Homo sapiens: one gene and its partner. The protein of the gene in region 2 purifies or fractionates together with the protein of the main gene of each other region. This does not show direct contact. Each region holds a gene or a part of one and is shown on either strand. Other genes may lie near its edges.

Region 1 (8,331 bases), on a different chromosome or scaffold from region 2:
CCAGGTGTGGTGGCTCATGCCTGTAATCCCAACACTTAGCCAAGACAGGAGGATTGCTTGAGCCCAGGAGTTCAAGACCAGCCTAGGCAACATAGTGAGACCTCATCTCTACAAAAAAATCAAAGAATTAGCTGTGGTCCCACCTACTTGGGAGGCTGAAGTGGAAGGATCATGTGAGCCCTGGAGGTTGAGGCCACTGAGCCATGGTCACACCACTGCACTCCAGCCTGGGCAACAGGGAAGCCACTATCTCAAACAAACAAAAACGTGCTTATCTACCCATATTATACAAAATCCTTGAGAATAAAATATTGTCTTAATTCTTTGGTATGACTAGTAATAACAATTACTAAAATTACTAATTATTAAATATTTTCAGTAACAGTAACAAATTATTTCAAACCTTTACTTGAATTCAAAAACACCAGAATTAAAAGAGAATCAACTCAAAGATTACGTCTTTTATTTTTTTTGAAACAGAGTCTTACTCTGCTGCCCAGGCTGGAGTGCAGTGGTGCGATCTTGACTCACTGCAACTTCTGCCTCCCAGTTTCAGCCATCCTCCAGCCTCAGCCTCCTGAGAAGGTAGGATGACAAGCATGTGCCACCACACCCAGTTAATTTTTGTATTTTTAGCAGAGTCAAGGTTTCGCCCTGTTGGCCAGGCTGGTCTTGAACTCCTGACATCAAGTGATCTGACTACCTCAGCCTCCCAAAGCACTGACATTACAGGCATGAGCCACTATGCCCAGCCAAAAATTACTTCTTGAAGACCATTTAGGCAATAAGGCATCATTGTCTTAATATAAATTGAGTTTCAATGCCTAAAAACAGTATGCTAAAATTCTGTAAAGCTTAGTGAAATTACAAAAATGCTTGGTTTTTTTGTTGATTTTTTTTTTTTGGAAACAGAGTTTCACTCTGTCACCCAGGCTAAAGTGCAGTGGCATGATCTCAGCTCACTGCAACCTCTGCCCACTAGGTTCAAGCAATTCTCCTGCCTCAGTCTCCCAAGCAGCTGGGATTACAGGCACGCGCCACCATGCTTGGCTAATTTTTTGTGTTTTTAGTGGAGATGGGCTTTTACCACGTTCGCCAGTCTGGTCTTGAACTCCTGACCTCAAGCGATCCACCTGCCTCATCCTCCCAAAGTGCTGGGATTACAGGCGTGAGTCACCACACCCGGCCGATGCTTGTTTTTTTAATTTTTTTTGAGATGTGATCTCACTCTGTCACCCAGGCTGGAGTGCAGTGGAGCAATTTCAGCTCACTACAGCCTCTCTCCTGGGCTCAAGTGATCCTCCTGCCTCAGCCTCCTGCGTAGCTGGGACTACAGCCAAGGGCATGTCACCACACTGGGCTAATTTTTAATTTTTTGAAGAGATGAGGTATCACTACATTGCCCAGGTTTGTCATGAACTCCTGGGCTCAAGCAATCCTCCCACCTTGGCCTCCCAAAATGCTGGGATTATAGGCATGAGGCACTGCACCTGGCTTCATGCCTTTTATAGAATAATATAATAAAAACATTTGATAAAAGTTTCAGAAGTCTATGAAGAGAACAGAAACCAATTTTTCAAATTGGAGATCTTCGTTAAAACTTGTCTGGATTATTTCAAGAAGTGACCATTTCTGCAAAATAACACAAGCTAGTCATTTTTTCTAACAATTTTTAAAATGCAAATTAACAGAAAAATTTTTATAGTTTAAAAATTCTAATTATAATACCCCTAACTATTAAAGCTTATAAAAGGATATGAGCATATAAAATCAAAGAGATTAAGTAGCCAAAGATCTGGGACTTGAAACTAGGGCTGTGATTCCTAACCTATTTTTACTATTATTCTACAGCAAACTATAGCATATTCTATTAAACCTTTCAAAACTAGTGCAGTGGTATGGGCAATTATAGCATAAGATTGTGACCATATTACATAATATTATAATAACTATCTATGTATAACTATATTATATAGTTAATATATTAACTATCACACCTGGGCATGGTGGCTCGCGCCTGTAATCCCAGCACTTTGGGAGGCCAAGGCAGGCAGATTGCCTGAGCTCCGGAGTTCGAGACCAGCCTAGGCAACCCGGTGAAACCCTGTCTCTACTAAAATACAAAAACTTAGCTGGGTGTGGCGGCGTGCGACTATAGTCCCAGGTACTCCGGAGGCTGAGGCAGAATTGCTTGAACCCAGGAGGCAGAGGTTGCAGTGACCTGAGATCATGCCACTGCATTCCAGTCTGGGCAACAGAACGAGACTCCATCTCCAAAATAAAAAAAGAAGATATTAACTATCACATAGCCACTTCAAAGGTTAAAGGGTAACTTTATGTCAGAAAAGTAGTGAAATAAGACTTATAAATGATGAGGGTACGTACAGGTGAGAAACAGAATTTGTACGGGAATGTAAAAGTCTAATTCGCTATCAGCATTTAGATATATAGATGACAGACAGATAGAAATTAACTGGCCAAAGAAAGACTCCTAACACAAAAAAAGCTTTCTGCAAACACCTTGGGAACAGCATGACACTAGTGAAAACAAAATGTTCTGGAATTACACGATTGATAAGATACTAGAATCTGTTGATACTTTAGGATTAGAAAACTGACATAAATTGTAAACTTGAATAAAGCCTTTCTAGATTTACCATAAAAAGACAATTCTTTGGGCTTCGTGTTCCATGTATGGTTCTCATTCTGTTAGAATAAACCCCTACTAATATGACAATTAAATAATGTAAATGTAAATAGCAGAATAATATATGCTACAGTGAGTTAACAGGTTGTTAAAAGTCAGTATTCTGGTCAGGCGCGGTGGCTCACACCTGTAAACCCAACACTCTGGGAGGCCAAAGCAAGTGGATCACCTGAGCTCAGGAGTTCGAGACCAGCCCAGCCAACATGGTGAAACCCTGTTTCTACTAAAAATACAAAAGATTAGCCGGGTGTGGTGGCGTGTGCCTGTAGTCCAATTACTTAAGAAGCTGAGGCAGGAGAATCACTTGAACCCAGTAGGTGGAGGTTGCAGTGAGCCGGGATCGAGCCACTGCACTCCAGCCTGGGCCACAAAAAAGAAAAGTCGGGATTCCACATCTGTTCTTGACTGATCCAAATATCTCCTTTTTAATACACTGTATGGAAAAATAACTGTTTTTAATTTGACACAATGTGAAAAACTAGTTTGTGAACAAATCAAGAAGTAAAATATATAAAAATAAAAGGAATAGTATATTTTAATTTTAAAAAACATTTAAGGCCGGACGGGGTGGCTCACGTGTTGCAATCCCAGCACTTTGGGAGGCCAAGGCAGTCGGATCACCTGAGGTCGGGAGTTCAAGACCAGCCTGACCAACATGGAGAAACCCCATTTCTACTAAAAATACACAATTAGCCAGGTGTGGTGGCGCATGCCTGTAATCCCAGCTACTTGGGAGGCTGAGGCAGGAGAATCGCTTGAACCCGGGGGGCAGAGGTTGCAGTGAGCCGAGACTGTGCCATTGCACTCCAGCCTGGGCAACAAGAGCAAAACTCCATCTCAAAAAAAAAAAAAATTAATGTGACACTGTCATTCCAAATTTTAAACTCATACCCTGAAGGTAAAAGAGCATTGTCAGTGGCTCCAAGAATGGGAAATAGTATTTCATATGATATTTTTGAGAGACAAGGAGAAAAAAGTCTGTATTTCACTACTACACTAAAGGTTTCATTTAATACAACTCTGGATATCTTCCTATGCTTATGCTTATGTATGTCAAAGATAATACTCCTTCCAAAAATGTCATTAAGTGCTAACATGCTGTTTCTCATAACAAAATTACCTACAATCAATTCACCTGTCACATCAGGTAGCTGGGATATTCCCCTCAATGCCAGCGCCCAGGCAAGTCTAACAGTGGCTTGGAGCCCAGGCAGTTTCCAAAGCTGTGAGTCCTGAAGACGAGAGTGAATTGTTGCAATGTACTGTTTTTCTGTCAACAGTGGAAGTTGATGAATCATATCTGAAAACACAAAAATAGACCACTTTACCGATCACCAGATAAATTCTCACTTCTGATACACAGGAATAATATCCAAAAGTCAGAAAATCTGAGCATTCTCACAGAAGAATAATGACCAATTAACATTAATTTCTACATCCCAAAAGGTACACTACTGTTGATTGTACACATACTAAAAACAAAAAAAGAAAATGACAATAATCCTAAATTTCAATTTCACTATTTTCAGTCATTTTTATAAGTGTACTACAAATAAACAAGAAAAAAGTTAGACACTCATTTTTTCTGCACATAAATTCTAAAATAGAAATCATGCTATCTAAAGATCACAAAAATTTTATTTACTTCACAGAAAACACAGATCAAAGATTACATTACTGAAATGACAGTCACTGTCTCAGAATGTTTTAATAAAAAGTTTGAAAATGTAAATGAATGGTAAAGAAACAAGCAATTAAGTAAATTAGGCATGTGCAATCATGAACATGTATAATATATGCTTTAATACTTTCCATTCCAAATCCCCCCAAAAAACAGAAATAATTAACAGGACTGCAGCTGTTTTTTAAATGTGATCTTATATATAAATATTCAAATATGAACGGACTGCAAACACAGGAACAGAGCAGACTATTTTAGTAGCTAAAATATCACCCTTTTTAAATGTTATCCCCACAATTTTAAATCTGATTTTTTTAATGTAGGAAAATGTATAAAACTCAATACCATCTCGTTCCTCTGTGCTTTGCTCTATAAAACTGATATCAAAACAGTATAGAAGCGCCATAAGAAGAGCCAGATTCACTGCATCCAGTGAGCCATTAGCCTCAACTGTCACTCTTTCCAAATGTCCAATGAGGAGGAGAGTGTCTTCTTTGCCTAAAGGTGACTGGCAAGCCCAGGCAAAAAGGCTTTCTGCAAGAGACTGCCTGCACTCCTTAATGAGATCAGAAACCTAGAAATAAAAACATGACTATCAGTATAAATAAATTACAGTGAAGCCTGGTCTTATTCCAAAGTACAAACTACCTTTTACAAAGGCTAATAAAAAAACCTATCAAAATCCACAAGTGATCCTAAGACGTCACCTCTGGAATTCTGAACAAACCCTATTGTTTATTCCTTATCCTTAAGTTCCTTAAGAAATTGGGATGACCAATTTCTTGTTCATTTCATAAAAAGAGCTAGAATGGCACATAAATGACTATACCGAAGCTGAAACAACTGCAAGTCAATTTTATGGACACAGCTGACTACAAACTTTAATATACATTACGAGCTGACTACAATTAACAATTTATTGTATACTGTACTGTCAAACAGTAGTACAGTGAATTTTGAATGTTCCCAACACAAAGAAATAATAAACGTTTGAGGTGATGGATATGCTAATTATGATTTATTACATATCATACATATGTATCAAAATACCACACTGTACCCTATACATATGTACAGTTTTGTGTCAATGAAAAATAATAAAAGCAAAAAAAAAGAAAAGTGGCAATCAGGCATGGTATCAGCTACATAATTCATCTTGAAAAAATGAACATTCTAATTGTCATGTTTCTGCCTCTGAGATTTGACAGACAACTCATGAATTGATTTCATTGAACCCTTGCCTCTTTGCGATGTTTTTCACTGCCCAAACCTCTCTCTCGCTGTAGTTTCTCAAACTCATTATTCACATCAATCTGTGACACCAGCGTAAGAACTTTATAAGTCAATCCTTGCTCCATCAGCTCATCTGTAAAGCGTGTTGTCATGGAAGCCAGCTCTGGACTGTAATGAAAAGAAATCAATAAACTACGTTAAACAATATTGTTTATGCTTCTTCATAATAATAGGTATAGCAAACGCTCTTTTTTTGAGACAGGGCCTTGCTCTGTCACCCAGGCTGGAGTGCAGTGGCGTGATCATGGCTCACTGCAGCCTTGACGTCCCAGGCTCAGGTCTTTCTCCCACCTCAGCCTCCCAGGTAGCTGGGACTGCAGGTGCATGCCATCATGCCCAGTTAATTATTCTATTTTTTGTAGAGATGGGATTTCATCATGTTGCCCAGGCTGATCTAAAACTCCTGAGCTCAAGACTGTAATCTGTAATCCCAGCACTTTGTAATCCAAAAATAATTTGGGCCACTGCACCTCGGTCCAAATTATTTTTTATTTATAAACACAATAAAACAGGTTTAAATTGTTATATCTGTCTTGGCAGAATAAGGGAGTATATTACTCAGCTTATGTTACATATTGCTCAGATTGTATATAATAAGGGAAATATTGTCATACTTCAAGTAATTTCAAATTAACCCCTGAAATCCCAAGAAGTAAAAAGACCTGAGTTCTAGGGTCCATGTCTTTCCCCGTCTAGACTGTATCAAGGCTTTCAAGGAATTCGCAATGCATCGCTTTCCATCCCAGTACAGAAGAACAGCTACTAATCCTCTGGTAAGGCCAGGAAAATGTGGCTGTTGATGCTCTCCTAAAAAAGGAAGTTGAGAAATAATATTGTTAATAAACACGTATGTGTTTAGGAGGAGACAAAAATCAATATAACAATGTTCAGTTCAAAGAATCACAGTAGCTCAGGGCTTAAGGGGCCCTGGGGTCCTCTACTACAAACATCCATCCACTGTCTAACTTCTTGCTCAACATATTCGAGGGCCATCCAACTTATCCCTAAACACCAGCAGGGACATGGAATTCACCATTTTCCAAACTCTCAATTTCTAACTCTCACACTTACCTGTGATTTCTACATACTGGGTGAGAATCTTTTGGTCTCACTGTTGTCCACTAAATTTAATTTTATTCAATGCCCATTTTACTATCTCATATGGAATCTTTCAAATATTTCTAAGTTTCTTCCCTCGGAATCTTCTCTGAATAAACAACCTTTTTATAATTCAAGTTCAGTCACCTTTTAACTACTCTCCTTTGAATGAGTTCTACCTTTTTTTTTGAGATGGAGTCTCACTCTGTCACCTAGGCTGGAGTGCAGTGGCGTGATCTCACTGCAACCTCTGCCGCCTAGGTTCAAGCAATTCTCCTGCCTTAGCCTCCTGAGTAGTTAGGATTACAGGCACTTGCCATAGCACCCAGCTAATTTTTGTATTTTTAGTAGCGATGGCATTTCACCATGTTGACCACGCTGGTCTTGAACTCCTGACCTCGTGATCCACCTGCCTTGGCCTCCCAAAGTGGTGGGATTACAGGTGTGAGCCACCACGCCTGGCTAAGTTTCACTTTTTTTTTAAGAGTACTTTGCCTATAGTTTCAGTTTCATTTCCTAAAGCTTTCTTTTCCCCTTACTGCAACTACTCCTCCACTCTACTCCTTTCTGTTCCCCAAATTCATCACCTTGCTTCACCCTCTTGCACAGGCAATTTCTTCTGCCTGGATGCCCTTCATCCTCCCAAATAACCACCTATTCCACCTGATGTATGCTTACTCATTTTGCAACATCTACCTTAAACTTCATGATGTTGTTAAGAGTTCTCTGTACAATCAAGGTCCATCTAATACCATCTCTAAATCTCTGGACCATCTCTAAATCTTGCACAAAACTGCATTAATTGTACTTAATTGTGTCAAAATATTTGTTTCCACATCATTCTCAATTATTAGAATATGAGCGTATTTACACTAGTTGAGATTTTATTCATCTTTATATCACTGGAGTGATATAATTAACACCATGCCTGGCACATGGTAGGTATAGAAGAAATGTTTGTTAAATGAAAGTTCCGAGTTAAACTCAAAACTCAAGCATGTCTAGTGAACATCCCCCTCATTCTCAATATCATACTTCTTTTAGTGCAGGCTTAGGTCAAAAAGGATTTTGGTAGCCATATATTATCTTTAGACATATTAAACTTTTGTTCAACTAACATGCCCATATTTTCTTCAAATGGCTCCTCCATTATAATTAAAACAAACTGCTTATAGTATAGAAATTTTTCTCTCTTTTCTCTACACAGCAGCCAGAGAAATAATTTCAGAGTTAGAATGAATTATGTAATGTCTCTGCTTAAAGCCCTCATCAACAACTTTCTATTGCAATTAGAATAAAATCCAAATACCTTTCATTATCATGCAAAATCAAACATGCTCTGATTCCTGCTGTATCTGCATCTTCCTTTGCTCTCCCTCTCATTTATGATGCTCTAGCCACAATGATCTTTTTATCCTTAAACACGCCTTTATTCCCACCTCAAGCACTGGCTGCTTGCTCTCCCCGGAAAAGCCTTACCCAATAGGTCTGGGTGGCTGGCACCTTCTCATCATTTGGGTCTCAAGGCAAATGACACCATCTTAGAGAGGCC
Region 2 (8,331 bases):
GTTTAAAGTATGGGTTAAGTGAGCATTCAACCTAAATTATCTATTCTGATTATGTACCTACTTTTAGAGAACAAGATAAAGAGTACTCTGAAAGAGTTAAAACAAATTCTGATATTTGGGAAGATAAAAAGGAGTACAAAGAAAATTTTGGAATTTAAATTTTAATCCTGCCTTTAAACCTGCCTCTACTCACCTAGCTGTGTGATCTTGAGCAAGTTGCTTAACCTTTTAAGCTTTACTTTCCTCCTATAAAACAGATGATAGTAATAACAGTATTGGCCTCCAAGAGTTGTGGAGGAATCACATGCACTAACTTACATAAAGTGTTTAGCTCAGTGTGCCTGACTGAGGTAATACATAAATAGTACCTATTACCATGAAATTAATTTTTACCGGATAGAGTTTCTTGAGGGAGAGCACATGCAAAATGCAGCTACTATTGTACTGGTCAACTATTTTCAATTCAATCACTATAAAAATTACAGACTATAAAAATTACAGAATAAATATATGAATGCTTTGACTAAAGCATCTGAGCCTTTAGATTCTAGAAAATGGCAAAACAGCATATCTGCCTTTTGGTAATCAAAGGAAATAAACATTTTCATATATAAGGATCAGTGCCCAGCATATAGCTGGTAGTTAATAAATGAACGAATGAATGATATTATGAAATAAAGTGAATTTGCAAAAGGGCCTGACCATTTTCAAACTAATCTATATAACATGATCAAGTAACAAGAAAAATATGACTTAGGATTGCAAAATGCTAGTGTTTCTTATAACAGTAACAGTCCAGCTGGGTTGGGACTTTATGTCAAAATGCTGGTACTAAAATGTATTATAATTATATCCCTTATCTGTAGGTTTTCAGGCCCTTTTGCTTTCTGTCACTTCTGGCAGTTTCTGGAGTGTTTAGGTATTATATCTTACAATAAATAAGAAGCATTTTTGGTGGACTAATTAAAAGAAATTTAAAAAGAAAAAACCATGGCCAGGTGCAATGGGTCACACCTATACAAATCCCAGTAATTTGGGAGGCTGAGGTGGGAGGATTGCTTGAGCTCAGGAATTTGAGACCAGCCTGGGCAACATAGTGAAACCCCATCTCTACACAAAATTGAAAAATTAGCCTGGCATAGTGGTGAGTGTCAATAGTCCCGGTTATCCAGATGCCTGAGGTGGGAGGATCACTTGAGCCCAGCAAGTCGAGGCTATAGTGAGCCGTGATTGCACCACTGCACTCCAGTCTTAGCAGCTGAGTGAGACCCTGTCTCAAAAACAAAGAAACAAGTAACAAAAAACCAAAAACCTTGATACTCAAGTTATCTCTAATCAACAAGGATGGAAGAATGGGAAATCAAGGGTTAAAAAAAAATACTAGCCACCCCTTATGGATGTCTCTAAGTAAAAATGAAATGTCTACTCTAGCTAGTTTACCTTTAATGTTAAAAACTGGAAACTTCATTTTTATCCCCATTGAATAAAAATCCACTTACCCCTTTTACAATGAAGAAATGGTACCTATAGTCTTTAAGTGATGTTCTTAAGTTCATGGAGGTAGGCTCTAGGAGCCTCTGTAGATGGTGGCTGCTTTAACTTCAGTTGAGAAAGAACATTTATTTTACCTATTACCATACATAATATCTCAGAACTTTTTACTAAATTGAATATTATTTAATGATTTGTATTATCCCATTGACACAATGTTTTTCCCAACTTCCTTGGGATATTATTACATTTGCTGTTAAGACAAACCCAGACATCTTACCCAAATAGAAAATCATTTCCAAATGTACAAACTAATATGGTCACATTGCAGGTCAGGCCACATACAAAATGAACTAATGGATCAGGCAATTAGACCACAGTGCCCAATAAATATGGTAATAGGAAGTTTCTTTATTTTTAATTGACCTGAATGAACAATCCGGTTGAGTGTGGATGTCAAACAAAAAAGTACCGACTTCCTTTATTTTGTAACAAAAACACTGAGGCTCTTTTAATTGCTATTTATGGACCCTTAAATAGATTTATTTTTAGTTACCATAGTGCTGATACAATGTTGTAGAGCCTAATAAATTTGAGTACCATTCATTCACTCATTCATTTGTTGAATTTAAATTGACAGGTTTTATTTCCAAATCTGCCAGTAAGTTGGTGTAGACCTTTGGCAACTCACTTCCTTTCTGATCCTCATTTTACTATTAAATTACAACATGAGATGACTTGCTAATTAACTACACCTAACAATTTACTAGACATAGAAGGGGACAAAAAATAGAATTCACTTTTCAGAAAAATCTTAAAATATAATTACATTGACAAAAGTATAGACACGGAAAATGACTCTGAGGTAATACATAAATATTTGTAAACAAACATGATGAACTAACTGTACAAAAGTAAGAGAATTGCAAAGTCAAGGAAAGATAAGTGTAGGATGGGGCTTGTCATAAAATTTCTATACAGAATGCAGCTAAATTAATTGCTTTCTTGCTTAACTATTTTGGATTTGGTCATAAATACAGTAAAGATATGAACATTTTTAGAAAGGCATCTGACCCCATTTGGATTCTAAAATATTTCAAAGATAGAATATTTGCTTTTTGGTAATCAAAGGAAATGTACGTTTCATGCATAATGTAACCATGATGCTGTACTATGGGAAAATCTGTACCTGCGATTTGGACTTTCTGTGTAACGGCTGCTTAAGTTCCTCTGGCACATGGGAAGTACTAAAAGAAGACAGCTCAGCTTCAGAATATTGATTATCTTCCATTTTCCTCATTTTGAGGCTATCTGTGAAGTGCCTTATATGATCTAGAGCAGAAAGTCCACTTTTATATTCTTCCTCTTTATACCTAAAATGAACCAACGAAAAACACAGAAATTTTCTTTTCATTTGTTATCTAATCAAATCACTTTCATTTGAATCTATCTATACAACTGACAAACTTCATATTGTATCTGCAAGGTAAAGTAGCATGCATCAATTATTGGGTTTTTATAAATACTTACAAACATCATGTCTTAAAAATATATTTCTGTTAAGATTTTTAGTAACTAAAGCCAAGCATATATTTGAGATAAAGAGTTAAAGTCAGTGACACATTAGTCAGTAATAGGCAGAGACAGAATTCATATATTCATTATTTCCATTTAAAGTAAAGCTAATTATGACAATATTTAGTCAACATCCATCATGAAAATATAATAGTCCCATCAATTTAACTGTTTGGTTATTTCTTTTCATTTAAAAAGTTATCATCTATATAGATCACATATATATCTACTGAAGTGAAGTTTATCTCAATTATACTTAACTGATGACCATGCCAGATTATTGTATAATTAGATAACGTCAAAATCTCTATTTTTCTTTGAGTTTTATAGGTAGAGTCTAACAATAAATGATTGTGTACTTATGTAATTTTCATTTTATCTTTCCCACCTCAGGTTAATCAGAGTTGCACCAAACCTGATGTATTTATATGCTTGTGGATTATGTTGATAGCCACCTTATTTTCATCTATTTAAATCTGATCCACCATGTATCCCTTACTAATTCAAGTTTAATTTTTGTGATTTATAACTCACAAATTGCTTATCACAGGAGGAATTGCAACCGTACATGGATCTACTCTAGCTTAGTTTCTAAAGTCACCCAAGGTACTCACCTCACTGGGGATGTCTTGCAACTCATCTCCAGGGCACTGGTTTCTTCATAGTCATCCTCAGGGTTTCCTTCATGTAAATTACTTGTCACTGGTTCCTTTCCTGTTTTTCCAGTAATATCATTGTCTTCATCCTCCTCATCTAACAACACCTCATCTTCAACTTCTTCATCATCCAGCAAGTCTGAATTTTGACTGGTCACCAAAGCCTTTTCATCTTTAAAATGACTGCCATTCATTCTTTCAAAAGCATTAAAAAAAAAGTCCAATTGTTGGTTTCATTTTTAAAATTGTAATTTGTTCCTTTATTATGTCTTCCCAACAACAGTTTAGATTTTCAACACTTAACATCGGAAATGTTTTATTGTTTATGCTCTACGTCAACCATGAAAAAATAATGTGACTTCACAAATGGGAAGATAAAGAAAAAAATAATTGTATGATTGTTCAGATTATAAATGAAGCCTCTGGCAGAACCCGAAAAACAATCTTGGTCTCCCATTTCTTATCAGACTTTGCTTGATAATTGATATTGCTATATATATCATATAAAAAGGCACATAAGTATGTTCTCAGCACAATTTACCTAATTGCCATGTAAGTACCCACCATTTAAAATAATAGATTTCTGGAAAATTCATATCACTCATGGGCCGTAGCTACAATACACATGCCTAAAGTGACTCTAAAAGTCCAAAGACAATGTTAAAGTAGTTACCAAGAAACAACTGGTATTTACTGATACTAGATGACATTTGTGGTACATTCCACCTAACCACTCTACCCATATTTGGAAGTAATTGACAGCTCACTTATTTGTACTATTTTCAAATTATTTTTTACAGTCTGAATGTGAAATAGTTCCTTGTTTCTCAGGAAAACGCCAGGGTGGAAAAAGCTCAGGTATTACAATGTACCCCCATCACTTTCCCACATAACAAAAATGAGTATAATTTAATATTCAGATTTCCCAGGATTAAAAAATAAATAAAACAATCTTGGATGTGACAAACACACATAGTAAAAATCCATTTGACCAGAAAAAGTCATATCATTATTAAGCTTTTAATAAAAACAATCGCTTAACCTCTTTTATCAAAGAATGGTGAAAACATCTTTTGCACAGACATAAATTAGTTTCCAAACACACTGCCAACTTGCTTGCATGAGTGGATTAAAATTTTTATTTAAAAAAAAGAAAGAAAAAGTAAAAGAACAAAAAGAGTGCATGGATGAAAATCAAAAGTAACAAAAGCCAACATAATTAAGAAAATCTATTTGTTAATTAAGTTTTCAAATGTGGCAATTTACAGAGAATAAATTATTCATCAAAAGTAGCCTGGTAGGAGTTCAGGGGAAAAACTTAGATGACTCAACCTTCTTATTTCTGTGCTGTTTAGACATGCTGAAGCCAGATGTTGCAACTATACAGGCTCACAAATCGCCAATTAAAGGCTAGAAAATTTGAATAGGCATCTCAGAACCCAAATGGTGTGTTTTGTTCAACAGTTCTTATTTGCATCAAGTAAATATCATTATCAAAGTATAAGATCGTCACTGTTTCTTGCTTGTTCTTGCTACTTTGTCCTTCTGATCATCTGCTTCCTCTCTCCCTTTCACAAACAGACAGACAGACACGCACACACACACACAAATGGGCAAGTAAAGGGAAAGGTACATCCAACTGCACACTGGTGTAGTTATCAGACTTCTCAGAGACTGGAAGGGTCTTTTTTCTTGTTTTTCTTTGATACACTTTTATACAAGTTGAAAAACAGAAGTGGTCATTTTTTTTGTTATTTTAGTAAAAAATGTTTATTTGATGTTTGCCTTGAAAAAATTACATAAAATAATTAATTTTGACTTTTGATAACATCAAAAACAGAGGACACTAATCCAATAATACTTGTATGATGAAAAATAATGGAACTTTTAACTAATTTCATGTTATTTTGAAATTTACAATGTAGCATCTGAATTTAATAGGTCACTATATAGTCGTGTTCAGAAAAGTCTACTTCTCAACAATAGATATTTAATTATAGCTTACAGATAAGAAAAATTAAATCCAGTAGTTTTGGTGAAATAGTGTTTCATTAACTTCATATGCAATGTGAAGTGCTGGGTAACTGTTAAGTATTATCATTAACAGCATTAAAAGCTTTTTTAAATGAATTAAGCTATTCATGCTTAATGTTGGTGATGATAAAAGGGAGCCAGTGCATCAGGGCAGTAAAAACAAGGATGTTCATACCCACTGAAACAAACAGACCAGAATTAAATGAGTAGTCACTTAAGAGGACATAAAGTAGCAATAGAATCTTAAGAAGACTATAAAAGCTTCTATGTAAAATATATTTGGGGGAAACTCCATGGGTATTTCATATATAAATGCATACATACATATGTACTATAATATGTATATTACATATATACAGAATATACATATATGTATTTATGTATAATACAGGTATATAGAATCATATATTACCTGTAATATATATAATTTATGATGTATAATAGTAGCCACTATTGATCAGTGATTCAACTGAATCCCTGTGACGGCTTTCTCTTCTACTTCTGAAATTTTGATAACAGATTCTATTCAGCTATCAGATAGCTAAATCCTGGTAAAATTATGGGCTCTGGAACCAGAGAGCTCAGGTTGAATCCCATTGATTACTTATGTGACCTCTGACACAATGGTTTAAGCTTCAATGTCTCCATTCCTTCACTGCTAAAATTATAGTGGCTATCTCATAGGGTTATGATGAAATTAAATTAATTAACACATGTAAAATGCTTGGAAGCATTTAATGTGGTATTTAATATGTACTAAATATATACCAGTCTTTGGTGACTGAAGTAATAGTAGTGCCACAAAAGTGAGCATAGCAAGTATATTTTAAAACATGTTCATTTCAGTCGTCACAGAGTTTAAAAAGTAAAAGACAGCTTTACCTCTCCTCCACATTCCTGGGAGATTGGCTGCCATGGTTGCTGTTCCCAATGAAATTTCGAATTTCTGTGAAGTAAGCATCTTCTTTGTCATCCAGAATCGCACCTGTACTTTCCAGTTCAGAATGAGGCGACGATGTTGCTGTACCTGTGTGGAGCAGAAAGCCTTTTATGACAAAGATTATTGTTTATCTAGCAACTTATTTGGAAACTCACTCCTTATGAATTTGATCAGTGCTGTTTCTTAAAACATGCCCTATGAATATTAATAATAATAACTTTAGAAAGTCAAAGTCTCCCCAGTTTACCATAATACACATGCCCATGACGGTCCTTTGGGAATATATTGAACCACTGAAATCATGAAGTACAGTCTCGCAAAGAAGGTGCTTCTCTCACTAGCTTTTCCTTACCTCTATTGTGACATGAGAATATTTGTATTCACATAATGAGAATTTAGAGTGAGACAAATTATGAACAAGTTTTAAATAGATTCTGCCAAGAGACACTCTATATGAAGTCCTGGTTGCAGTCAACATGCCTTTTTATTTATTTATTTATTTTTTGGCTACTATGCTAAAGCATATAACAAAATACAGTTTAAAGGCACACTGAAAATTCTGCATCCTGGTTTGCTGGGCGAAGCTGTGAGTTGACTCAGAACACTCCAGTCCAGGGGTTGGTGCAGTATTAAAAGGACAATATTAGATATGCTGATTACAGGATGATCTTCCCCTTCCTTGCCTATGCACTGCAAGACTCACAATACCCGTATCACTGGATTGGTGTAAGGCTTACATAAACTTAAACCACTTTTACACTTAAGCACTTTATATGTGGTTGAGCTTTACACCAACATTAGCTTCCTGTTGTTTATCTTGCCTACAAAGTATCTGTAATATAATAGTTCATCACAATAGTCTATATGACAAAAACAGGAGGTTAGAACATCCCCTCACCTAAAAGAGGTTACAATCTTGGTCAAAAAGTATTAACTTTGACATGTTACATGTTTAACCTTTTTTCTTAAAATAACTTTGATAAGAAAATTATAGTTGTATGCTATAAGGGTACACACAGTTAGAGTGGCCAGTTTTGCACATTGGATTATACTTCTCTACCTAAAATCTAATATTTTAAAACTATGATCATTAAATTGCTGACTTTGAGGGAGACGAACAGTATATACTTTTAAGTACTAATCAGACAAGATCATAAATAATGTGCCTTTATAGGGGAAGAAAGATTAATAATTAAAAAATTCCATAAATAAAGATTGCTAGTCTGTATTAATCCAAATTTTTTCTGTTCTTAAATCTCTTTGCCTGAATTCTGTATCTCTCCTCCCCTACCCCCAAAGCATAACCTTTATTCTCTGGAGACAAATTGTGACTGCACAGGTTGGCTCTGCACACATATGCCAGCTGGCAAATGTTACTTAATGACTTATTATCTAACTATTGGAAGCCAAAGACTAGAAAACCTACAATCCCTTCTGCTAAATATGTGCTGGCAAGGTCCCAGTTAAGAAAAGTCTAGTTTTATGCCAGTTACTTTTATCTTACTTTCATATAAGAATTTGTGACAAAAACAAAGCACTACTATCATTTGCTATGGGTTGCTCTGATCATGTCAATAGTCTCATATTCCCAGTCTTAACAAAAATTACCAAGAGAGGTTCTCTGAGCTGCAGGCC

Evidence for each region. The genes of interacting proteins can lie anywhere in the genome.
Region 1: the proteins of MECOM (region 2) and NUP205 purify together in Homo sapiens (affinity purification with mass spectrometry, with the first as the bait; 2 studies listed by BioGRID). This does not show direct contact.

What each region holds. Positions count from the first base shown.
Region 1 is NC_000007.14:135,574,427-135,582,757, reverse strand, and holds part of NUP205 (nuclear pore complex protein Nup205), read right to left. Parts: intron 6,489-8,331; coding exon 6,344-6,488; intron 5,790-6,343; coding exon 5,630-5,789; intron 4,963-5,629; coding exon 4,734-4,962; intron 4,008-4,733; coding exon 3,843-4,007; exon of another isoform or gene 3,832-3,842; intron 1-3,831. UniProt on the Homo sapiens protein: Plays a role in the nuclear pore complex (NPC) assembly and/or maintenance. May anchor NUP62 and other nucleoporins, but not NUP153 and TPR, to the NPC.
Region 2 is NC_000003.12:169,086,320-169,094,650, forward strand, and holds part of MECOM (histone-lysine N-methyltransferase MECOM), read right to left. Parts: intron 6,784-8,331; coding exon 6,639-6,783; intron 3,918-6,638; coding exon 3,681-3,917; intron 2,865-3,680; coding exon 2,681-2,864; intron 1-2,680.